Linked DNA regions of Homo sapiens: region 2 is linked to region 1. The links come from fine-mapping of genetic effects on gene expression. Tissue or cell type: whole blood. Region 1 holds a variant in brackets; the other region holds the start of a gene. All regions are shown on one strand. Distances are between the middles of the regions.

Region 1 (5,753 bases):
CCAGGAGGCCCCTGGTGCAGACAGGGCGGTTGAAGCCCAGCCTCCCACTGGGGTCATGCTCCCTGGGCCTGGTGGCTGGCTGCCTTCACGGTGGCCAGGGAACCTCATGGCTGTTGTCACAACAGCTTGAGTGCCATGGACCAGCAGCCAAGATGGCACAGCCCAGTCCCAGCCGGCCCTGGTTCCCTCGTGCTACAGGATACGGTGTTGTCCTGAACATAACAGAGCAGGCGGCCAGTCCCCAGAGCTGTATGCACCCCACAAAGAGACCCCTTCCCAGGGTCATTCTTCATAGCTCCCCACCCAGGTAGCGGAGCTCCTGGTCAGCGGCGGCTGCTGCGTTCCCCTGTCGCCGTCTGCATCCTCCAGGCATGGCCAGAGCAGGTTCCTTGAACCCCTGAGGAAGCTCCCTTCCCTCCTACAGTCTCAGGGCTGAGATGTAAGCAGCTGAGGCTGTGGTGCAAGCAGACTCTTAATTCTTGTCCTGAATAGCCCTGAGCAGTGTGGGCTCCAGCATCTGACCACGTGGCCTGCCCCCCAGACCTGAGGAGGTGAGGAGCCAGCCTGGCCTCTGGGACCTCTGGGCTGTTGACTGGAAACCTCCCGCGGAGGAGGACGTAAAGGGAGACCTTGGGCTCCATCCCTGCTCTTGCTTATGGCCCACAGGAGGTCATCCCTAGGGACTGAGCCCACAGCAGGGGGCACTGAGCACTGTCCTGACAGCTCCAGCTCCCAGGCGCTCCCACTGTCTTGCCAGGCTGTCCGAGGCCAGGCTGTCCCAGGGTCCGTCTTCAGGTTCGGGGCTCCCTGACAGCAGAGAGGACACGTGGGGAGGGAGAAGACGCCCCTCAGGCTCAGGCTCCGGCTGCAGCAGATGAGACGGGGTCAGTCCTTACTCTGGATGTGTCGTGTTCAGATATTTTGCAGTGAGGCAGCCTCATGAACAGGAGTAATGAGGATGGGCAGGAGGGGCCAAGGAACAAGGCACAGGGGCAGGAAGGCTGGATTCCCTCTGCTGGCGCCAGGGGAACAGGCAGGGCTGGCAGTAACACCACAGGGAGGCAGGGCTGGGCACACATAAGACAATGGTCCTAAAAGGCATTGCTCATGGTGGCCGTGCAGCGCTGACCGTGATGCCAAGTCCCGTGGCTGGCTCTGCTGTGGGGTGTCTAAAGCACACCCGGCTTGTGTCTGTTTAAAATTGAACTTAGGCCGGGCGCGGTGGCTCACGCCTGTAATCCCAGCACTGTGGGAGGCCGAGGCAGGCGGATCATCAGGTCAGGAGATCGAGACCATCCTGGCTAACACGGTGAAACCCCGTCTCTACTAAAAATACAAAAAAAAATTAGCCAGGCGTGGGAGGCTGAGGCAGGAGAATGGCGTGAACCTGGGAGGTGGAACTTGCAGTGAGCCAAGTTCGTGCCACTGCACTCCAGCCTGGGTGACAGAGCGAGACTCCGCCTCAAAAAAAATAAAATAAAATAAAATAAAATAAAATTGAACTTAATAAAAATGAGAAACTGCAGCATCATGGGAGGGGAAGCGCCACGTAGGATCATAACTGAGTAGCTGCTCGAGCTGGGCTGCTGGCTGGCATGGAGCGGCCCCATCACTCGAGGTCTGCTTGCCCTGGGAGGGCTTGGGAAATCTTCACGGCCACCCTCTAACCATCGCTTCCTCTCCTCTCGCCCCCCATTTCAGCAGGAAGGAGCGCCCCACCTCCCTGAACGTGTTCCCCCTGGCTGACGGCACGGTACGTGCACAGATCGGGGGCAAGCTCGTGCCTGCGGGGGACCACTGGCACCTGAGTGACCTCGGCCAGCTGCAGTCCAGCTCCAGCTACCAGGTTTTGTAGCCGTGCCGTGGAGTGAGAGGCTCCTCCCTGTTGCTGGTGTTCCCCGTTCACTGGGGCGGGAGCCTCGTCTGCAGGCAGCCCTTCACGGCTCTCTGGGCCACTCGCCCTCTCCCTTCGTGTGTGGCAGGATGGAGAAACCCAGCCAGGGTGTCAGGGGCTCAGGCTGCCCAGCAGGCCCTGTGTGGCTGTGGCTGTTCCACGCGGCCTCGTGTCGGCACCTGCTAGTCCAGGCTAGACCTCCCTGCCCTTGGATAGACCGCTCTGTAGCCAGGGGTGTACAGTGCCTGTCAGGGTTGAGCTTAGTGATCCTCTCTCAAACCACACCCCCACATAAAGCCTCATGCTCACCCGGGCTCCAGCCAGACACATCCTGCCCCTGAGAGCCACGCCTCTACTCTCGGAGGAACGTCAGTGTCTAGAGTGTGGGGTTTGCCCTCCGTTGGCAGAAAGGTGAGGAGAAAGCTCCTCTTCTCTGGGCCCCTCCCTGCCTGTCCCTGGTAACGCCTCCTGGGTCCTGAGTTTGAGAAAGCAGAGCCTCGCCCCAGCAGGTACTCACAGCCAGAGTGCGGGGGCCCCAGCAGGTTCTCACAGCCAGCCGGTGAGTGCACCTCAGAGCACAGGGGCCCAGAGCCAGGCCACTCCTTCAGGGCCCCAGGTCGCTTGCTGCCAGTTTTGGCCTGTGAGCTCACTGGCCTCAGTGCCAGGTAAGGACAGCCACCTTCCTGGGAAGAAGAGGTGACCCCGGGTCTGGTGGATTTCCCACAGGGGCCGTCAGAGGATGTCCACAGAGGCAGAGCCCTTGGGGCCTGTGGGCTGGGTTGGGCTGGTGGATGTGGGGCCTGGGACTTCTCCAGAAGCTTACTTCCTGCTGCATGCTTTGCCGACTGTCCTTCCACCTCTAAGTGTCCATCGTGCCTGTGGGGGCTGCTGCAGGCTCCTGCTCCGTCAGCCCACCTGCTGCTGCGCTGCTCTGGGAGCGAGCTCCCTCATGGCATCTGGAACGCTCTCCTGTCCTCCCTGTGCTCAGGGCTGGAGAGAGGGTGGCGGGGCTGCGGGCTCCCCGGGCCTTCTGGGCCCAGCCCTGCCACCTGGGCCCACCTCCTCTCACTGTCTCTGGCTCACGCTTCCCGGGCCTGGAGCTGGGACCTGCCCATAGGCATCTGAAGACACGTCAGCCTCAGCCGGGGGGAGCCCTTGCTTGACGCTCTCTGGCCTCCGGGCTGCCTCTCGCGCCCGCTCTGGGCCCGCTCTTCTTCTCATGATGTCTTTCCTTTCACCTCCTGCGTTGTCTGACATCGTCGCTCTCTTCATAAATTGTAGC[G/A]TTTTATGTTTTCGTTCATAGGAGTGTTTTATTTGATTTTTCTTTATTTTAAATTATTACATTTAAGTTCTTTTTATTTTATGCTCTAGGTTTTGAAGTTTTTCTAATTTCTTAATTTTTTTGTTGTTTTTTGTTTTGTTTTGTTTTTGTTTTTATGTACTGTATTTTCAGTGTTTTAACCAAACAGTTGTGGCTACTCATGGTGAGGAATGACCGCTAAGAGTTTGGGTTCTTTCAGTGCATTTGGAGGTCACTGCTACACGTTGATGTTTAGGAGGTTGAGAGGTTTGCCTTTAGGTAAGTTGTGGCCAGGGGGAGTGTCCCATGGGTAAGTGGTGGCCCTGTAGGGTGACGGAGAGCTAGGGGAGGCGCAATCAGACTGCAGAATTCCCCGCAGCCACCATGAGGGTCAGGAGCAGGCCGGGGACCCAGCGTGGAGGAAGGTGGCCCAGAAGCGTTTGTCTGATGTGCACAGCTACACCCTGCCTGGCCACATGGGGTTCCCTGTTTTCTCTCTGCCGGGTGGTGGCAGAGTCGGTGAGACACCAGGTGCCTGTGACACATTGGGTAGACAGGTTCTTTGAGAACGTCAGCACAGACTTCTTGCATGAGCGGTACTCGCTTCCTCCAGCGTGGGGAGTGACATGAAGAGCAAGGGTTTTCCTTTCAAACTGGGCATAGCTGCAGAGCCACAGGCCGTCTCAGACATTTCTACAAAGCCACTCCGGGAGGCGGGCTGCGCCCGTGTGAGGGCTCTCCCTCGGCACTGCTCATCTTTTGGGGCTGGACATGCATGGCCTGGGCCGCTGGGACGCGGTGGGTGTGGAGCAGCATCCCTGGCTTCCACCCACGAAAGCCAGGAGCACCCCCTTCATTTGTGACCACAAAAATGTCTCTGGACTTTGCAAGCATCCCCTCGGGGCAGTCAGCCCAACTGAGAATAGCTACTATAGAGGAAGGTGTGTCATTTTGAGATTCCTTCTAGAGAAACTTAGGAGCCTGGTAGATGAAGCAGAAATGTGTCCTCTGAGTGAGTGGCCGTGTCCGGTACTGAGAGGCCCCGTGCCCTGAGTCTGGCGGTGACCAGAGAGGCTGGGCAGAGGCAGAGGTCAGCACTGGCCATGACTTCTGGAAGTCCCGTCTGCCCTGGTCACTTAAAGGCCAGTATAAGTCAGCTGTGGAGAGGGCTGGATACCCCCTCGACAGCTCCTCCCTGGGTGAGATCCTTAGCATTAGAGTCCCCCACGGTGCGCCCTCTGAGAGACCACGGGAACCCACCCAGCGGCTGCCTGGGACAGGCACAGGAGCCACCTGGGTGCCTCTGAGGCCTTGCACTTTCCCACACCTCAAGGAGGGCCGGGGGCCACGGGCAAGCTCTGCCATAGCGGGTGATCAGGTCAGCTAAGACGAGAACGTTTGGGGCTCTTTTTCTCCAGCTGGTTCAGTATCTTTGTTAGGAAAGACCATTGGAAAGAATGTTTGTTTCGCATTCCGCATTAGTCACATAGAATGCGCTCCTCCCTAGCGAGCTTCCTGAGGTAGACGGCTGGTTGCGGTTTCTCGTAATCCGGGCTGCCCCCACCCTCCAGAATGTCTTGGTGGCGTCCCTTTCTGTGAGCAGGGATTGTGGTTTCTTTGCGCTTGCTCATGTTCAGGGGTGAGCTCTGGTCCAGTCAAGCCACAGGGTCAGCACCTTCTGGTCACTCCCTGGCCCTGACCTGAGCCCGGGGAGGAACGTGGGGCAGGCGCGGGTGGGCCCAGCCTCGAGCTCTTCAGCACAGTGATGGTGACGGGGCAGCGGTGGCGGCACAGCCAGCCCTTCTTGGGTCCCCAGTCAGAGCCCTCTGCCCTACCTGGGCTGGACTTGTTTCTGAACAGCCACAAGCTACAGGGGGCTGCCGCTGTGTCCCTGGCGAGGCACTGGCCCATTACAAGCAATCGTCTGGGGAGGGCACCAGTGGAAAGCCCCGTTCCAAGCCATTTCAGGAGGGTGGCCCTGCTTCCGAGGAGCCGGAGTCAGTGGCCGGATAAGCAGAGCCACTCGGGAGTGGTGAGGCCCGGAAGGGTTAGCCCGGTGGGCGGCAGAGGAGCTCTGGCCCGCAGGGTGTCGGGCGAGGCAAAGTGCAAAGCATTGGTGCGCGGGGCCTCAGGCAGCCACGGCGGAGCCGCAGGCCAGGGACCTGCAGTGACTCGCTCTCCCTCCTCCCTGTGTTTGGCCTTAGTGTCCACAGGATGAAATGTCCGAGTCAGGCCAGTCCTCGGCGGCCGCCACACCCAGCACCACAGGCACCAAGTCCAACACGCCCACATCCTCCGTGCCCTCGGCCGCCGTCACACCCCTCAACGAGAGCCTGCAGCCCCTGGGGGACTATGGCGTGGGCTCCAAGAACAGCAAGCGTGCCCGGGAGAAGCGCGACAGCCGCAACATGGAAGTACAGGTCACCCAGGAGATGCGCAACGTCAGTATAGGTGGGTGCCCACCTCCGGGACTCTGGGCTCCCTCGGGCAGGAGGCAGGGCTTGGTTTGGGTAGATGTGAAACTAATGCACCAGGCGGGCAGTGCAGGCAGCAGAGACG
Region 2 (5,304 bases), 38 kb before region 1:
TGTCATCTAAGCACTTTGGGAGGCCAAGGGGGAGGATCGCTTGAGGCCAGGAGTTCAAGACCAGCCAGAGTAACAGTGAGACCTCTGTCTCTACAAAAATGTTTTTAAAATTGGCCAAGCAGTGGTGGCTTACACCTGTAGACCCAACTACTTAGGAGGCTGAGGTGGGATCACTTGAGCCTAAGAGTTCAAGTGAGCCCTGATCATGCCAGTGCCTCCAGCCTGAGCAACAGGGTGAGACCCTGCCTCTAAAAACTGAACAACAAAAAAAATCAGTAGGGTGTCAGCTACGGGAGTTACTGTTTCGGTGCAATCAGATTAGGATGAGAGGATCTGAACTGATGAGCATTGCAGTAGGTGAAAGACGGTAAGTGGCCATTTCTATTAGCATTAAATAGTCACTGATGTGGTTTCATCAGGATTCACAATACATGTGTGGCTCCCAAATTGAGTTTCAAAGTCTTGGGTTCATGGTGTCCCCTGCCCAGCAAAATAAAGTGCAAATCTTACGGAGCAACACATTTTAAGTTCAGGCCTCAAGTACTTCCAGAGACAAAAGTCCTGGGGACACTGGCTCAGAATGGGGGAAAGGGGACCCTGGGCCAAGAGTCAACCAGGATGACATGCAGAATCAGACCTGCAAGGGCTGCAGATACTGTAGTTATGAGGCACACCCAACGCTTAAAGATAAATATGTGGTTGGAAGTATAAGAGCCTATTAAAACTGCTAGAATATAAGAAATCAAATAGGACAAAAACAGAATCATTGGCAGGGTGCAGTGGCTCACGCCTGTAATCCCAGCACTTTGGGACGCCGAGGGAGGCGGGTGGATCACTTGAGGTCAGCAGTTCAAGACCAGCCTGGCCAACATGGTGAAACCCCGTCTCTACTAAAAATACAAAAAAATGAGCCGGGCGTTAATAGCGCGTGTCTGTAGTCCCAGCTACTCAGGAGGCTGAGGCAGGAGAATCGCTTGGACCCAGGAGGCGAAGGTTGCAGTGAGCCGAGATCGCGCCATCACACTCCAGCCTGGGCGACAAGAGCGAAACACCGTCTCAAAAAAAAAAAAATCGGTGCAATTAATAACCCAGTGGATGGGTTAAACAGATTGCACGTAGCTGAAAAGTAACCGAAAATCTGGACTGGCGCGGTGGCTCACGCCTGTCATCCCAGCACTCTGGGAGGTCGAGGCGGGCGGATCACTTGAGATCAGAAATTTGAGACCAGCCTGGCCAACATGGCGAAACCCCGTCTCTACTAAAAATACAAAATTAGCTGGTCTGTAATCCCAGCTACTCCGGAGGCTGAGGGAGAAGAATCACTTGAACCCAGAAGGCGGAGCTTGCAGTGAGCCAGGATCGCGCCACCGCACTCCAGCCTGGGCGACAGAGCAAGACTCCATCTCAAAAAAAAAAAAAAAAAAGAAAATCTGAAGCAGTCAGTGCAGTAGGGAGAAGTGGGCGAAAGGAAGGAGGCCACGCTGCTGGGTTTCAGGATGAGATGGGCGTTGAGGGTGCATTCACAGAATCCCGGGAGGAGCCAGCTGAGCGGGGAAGGCATCAGGAGAGGGGAGGCACTGAGCGGGGCGCGGTGCTGTAGGGAACGGAGGCTCATCAGGGCGGCCGGGATTGAGGCGCAGGCGCTGAGCCTTCACCTAAGTCCGCCGAAGTGTGCAGAGCCTGGAGACGGGATCGAGGTCACCGGAAGCCCACGGTTGCGGGGACATGATCAAGCTACAGCGCGCTGGGGGAAGCGACCACTGCCGCCCCGCGGATCCCACCGGCCTGGCCGGGAGCTCCCTCTGCCCGGCTCACCCGCGCTTCCGGCCCGAAGCCCGGCTTCCTCTGACGTCACGGCCCCTGCGCCCCCTGGCGGCGCGGCTGCGGCGGGACGCGCGGGCACCGCCCCCTCCGGCTGGAGGGCGGGACTTCCGGTGAGTGAGTGACGGGCGCAGCCTCGGCAGCGGCGGCGGCGGAGCCCTGAGGCGACAGCAGCTGCGGGAGGCGACGGGCTGCGGCCTGCGGAACCTGAGGCAGCTGGGGAGGGCCGGGCGCGCCGGCCGGATAGCGAGCCGCGCTGGCGGCGGCGGTGGCCGCGATGATGGAGATCCAGATGGACGAGGGCGGCGGCGTGGTGGTGTACCAGGACGACTACTGCTCCGGCTCGGTGATGTCGGAGCGGGTGTCGGGCCTGGCGGGCTCCATCTACCGCGAGTTCGAGCGCCTCATCCACTGCTACGACGAGGAGGTGGTCAAGGAGCTCATGCCGCTGGTGGTGAACGTGCTGGAGAACCTAGACTCGGTGCTCAGCGAGAACCAGGAGCACGAGGTGGAGCTGGAGCTGCTGCGCGAGGACAACGAGCAGCTGCTCACCCAGTACGAGCGTGAGAAGGCGCTGCGCAGGCAGGCGGAGGAGGTGCGTGGGCCGCGGGACCCGCCCGCATCCCCGTCCCGGACCCCCAGCCAGCCCCGGGCCCCGGACCCAACACCCGTCCCGACCCCAGACCCCGCTCCGGCACCCCGGACCGCGGGACCCCTGGACCCCCAGACCCCGCCCCGAGACCCGCCTGGACCCCATATCCCCCGCCCCGGGACTTCCCCACCCCCTCTGCCCGCCGTGAGACACCTCCCTAGAGCACTCCCCCGCCTGCCCCGGGACCCCACCCCGACTCCCGGGGACCCCCTTTTCCGCCCAGGCCTGGGCCCTGGCCCCCTCCTCCGTGCCCCCAGCCCTGAATCTTCAGCCCCAAACCCGATGTGCCTGGCGTCATCCCCGGGGAGCTCAGCTTCAAAGCCAGGCCTCACTCTCCCCTCCCCACCCACCTCTGCATGACAATTGCCTTTGCTTTCGTGCGTGTGTTCAGTCAAAACCGTTTCCCGACCCCAAGTGCTACCTCTGTTGGCTGCCATTCTAAACCCATCTAGAAAAGGAATCTTTTGGTGTTCTTAGGGGGCTGCAGCCGTCTGTGGATGATGTTGGAGACCTTTCCCTTGTCCCTAATCCCGTATTTTGAAGGTCTGTGACACGGGTGAATTGGGTGGTTGATGTAAACACAGAACAAGGCCGCAGGCGGGCTGCTCCTCTGTCAGCAGAAGGAACACTCGAGTTTCTGGAGGTGATGTCTTTGCCCCCTTGGTTCCTTGCTTGGCGAGATTGTTAGCTGATGTAGCCAGGGCTGAGAAACTCCACTCTGGCTTCTGAGGAGTTAACAGTCTGAGTTTGAAGCGTTTAATTCTGTGCTAGGATGTCTCCATAACCTGGAAATCGCTTGTCTGTGAAGCAGTTACAAGAGCCGGGCCCTGTGGGGAGCACCACTTAGCTTCATTCATTCACCGTCAGATACTGAGCTCGGCCTGCCTGTGTGTGGGCCCAGAACCTCGCCCTTTGTCAGAAACAGGTTCAGGGAGGCTGGTTCCCATCCCTGCTTTGCCTCTGTGACCTTGGCCTGTCGCCTGCCTGGGGTTCGATTTTCCATCAAAGGAGTGAATTGCACTAGGCGATCTCCAAGCCCAGAAATTCTCTCATTCTAGGAGTTAGGTAATGCTGTTTGACTTATGAATAGAAGTGTCTTAGGAAATGAGCTTCAATTCCTTTTCAATTAATTCGGCTTAACACATTCTTGACTTTAATAGGAAAATAAAAGATTGTGTCAGTATTTTGGCTTTTTCTGAAACCAAGGTGATTTATGGCCTAGTTTGGTTTAAAGCGTGTTTATAAAAATCATAACAGTATGTTGTATCATTCCTCCTTTCCTGTGGTTTCTATTGCGTTTGGGCTTCGTGTCTGTCGCGAGGTGGTTATGCATTGATTGGAATGCCCCGGTTCCAGCAAAGCTGAGTTAAAGCTCTCAACCTAAGGGAACGCAAAGGTTCATGGATTTTGGAGCTCAGGGTGACTATAGGCATTTTACTGGGAAGGAAACTTGTCCTGAGAAGTGGAGGGGCTGAACCAAGGTCACCCACCCCAGAAGTGCCCAGCCAGGATGCAGAGTGAACCCGACACCGGCCTGGGCACTTGCTTCCATGTCAGGCAGCTGCAGGCACCGGAGGGCTGCTCCCCAGAAGCCTGGAGTGCCAGGGCTGCCCTCGCTCAGCTGTGGAGCTGTGGCTGCCCCCTGTGCTGGGCACCGCCCTCCACTGCTCTCCCACACTCAGTGGCCTGACCTGGATTTCAGGTGGGTTTCTTTTTTTCACCTTGTACCTGTGTGGTCAGTATAGTGGACGAGAAGGAACTGAAAGGAGAAAATCAAGATGGACAACGTTAAGGCTAGGAATTATAACCTTGCCGCTTAAAAATGAGCTGTGCACAGGATAGGCGCTGCCCAGCTCTGTGCGGTTCACATGCAAGCTGCTGTGAGTGCATCTGCCCTCCCCCAGGGCTCCTGCTGAACCAAGCTGGCGGGTGTGCGTGTGGTTTGCAAAGCTATCACCTTTAGTCTGAGACCCACCATTGCCCCAGCGCTTTAGAGAAGCTGCACCGAGAGCTTCGGGAGCCGAGCCCCGAAGCCAGCCAATGCTTGGCCAGCATGGAGGCTATGATTAAACGCTAACGGGGCGCCCTTGGAAAGACCTCAGGGCTTTACAACTAAGGAAGAGGGCTCGATGCTGTCAACATTTGGCATGCCTACTCCTCTACTGAATCAAGCAGACCTTCATTTCCAACTTTGTAGACCATTGTGCCCTGTGGGTCGGCGTCTTTTCTAGGCAGGGACTTGTGATCACATAGACGTGTGTCTGATAAGAGGGGAGCGGGACGTCACACGCTGCAGGCGTGTCTTGTTGCAGAGGAGCTCCTGGGTGAGCTGTCAGCAGAAGCTCCGTCCCCAGCCACTCTGCTCAAGAAGGCTTAGTCAGAGATGGGTAACCTGAGCCACTGCAGCTTCTGAGCAGACAGAATCCGCAGGGTTTTATAAAAACCTGAGCAGAGCAGACATCCCTGTTCCCATCTTCTTGCCGGTCATTACCACAGTGACTCCCAATGTGCTCTGATAACAGGCAGCTGAGTGTATGAGAGTGACAGGAGCTAGAGAGGGTGGGGTCTCCCGAGAGACTGACCCAAGCCGTGGAGTCTGCAGACCCCAGCCTGAGTGTCAGCCCGGCCCTCAGGAGCCACACACCCTGGGTCCATCCTCTTCCCCTCGCTGGGCTGCAGTGGCCGCGGACTTTGCAAGTCAGTTTCATCTCAAGATCCAAGCACCATCACTGGCTGTTGGTTGCCTGGAGAATTGTGGGCAGGCAGATGTAGCAGAGTCAGGGCAGAACCCTTGACGGGTTCTCAGGGCCGCCGTGGACGGCAGGCACCGG

Evidence for each region. PIP is the estimated chance that this variant, and not a neighbour inherited with it, causes the effect.
Region 2: MAPK8IP3 starts here. The variant in region 1 is fine-mapped to the expression of MAPK8IP3 in whole blood (INTERVAL, PIP 0.97). The same link has a PIP of 0.9 or more in monocytes.

Annotation. Positions count from the first base shown.
Region 1 is chr16:1,741,631-1,747,383 of GRCh38, forward strand. It overlaps MAPK8IP3 (mitogen-activated protein kinase 8 interacting protein 3), which reads left to right. Exons shown (of 32, transcript NM_001318852.2): 5 at 1,702-1,846; 6 at 5,399-5,645. Among named protein-coding and RNA genes, the nearest start is that of MIR3177, 9.5 kb to the left of the region's middle. The variant G/A (reference allele first, on the strand shown) is at 3,177.
Region 2 is chr16:1,704,242-1,709,545 of GRCh38, forward strand. It overlaps MAPK8IP3 (mitogen-activated protein kinase 8 interacting protein 3), which reads left to right and starts at 1,954. Exons shown (of 32, transcript NM_001318852.2): 1 at 1,954-2,416. The coding sequence starts at 2,099. RefSeq lists silencers at 507-801, 1,708-2,047, 2,318-2,427, 2,448-2,497 and an enhancer at 1,285-2,149.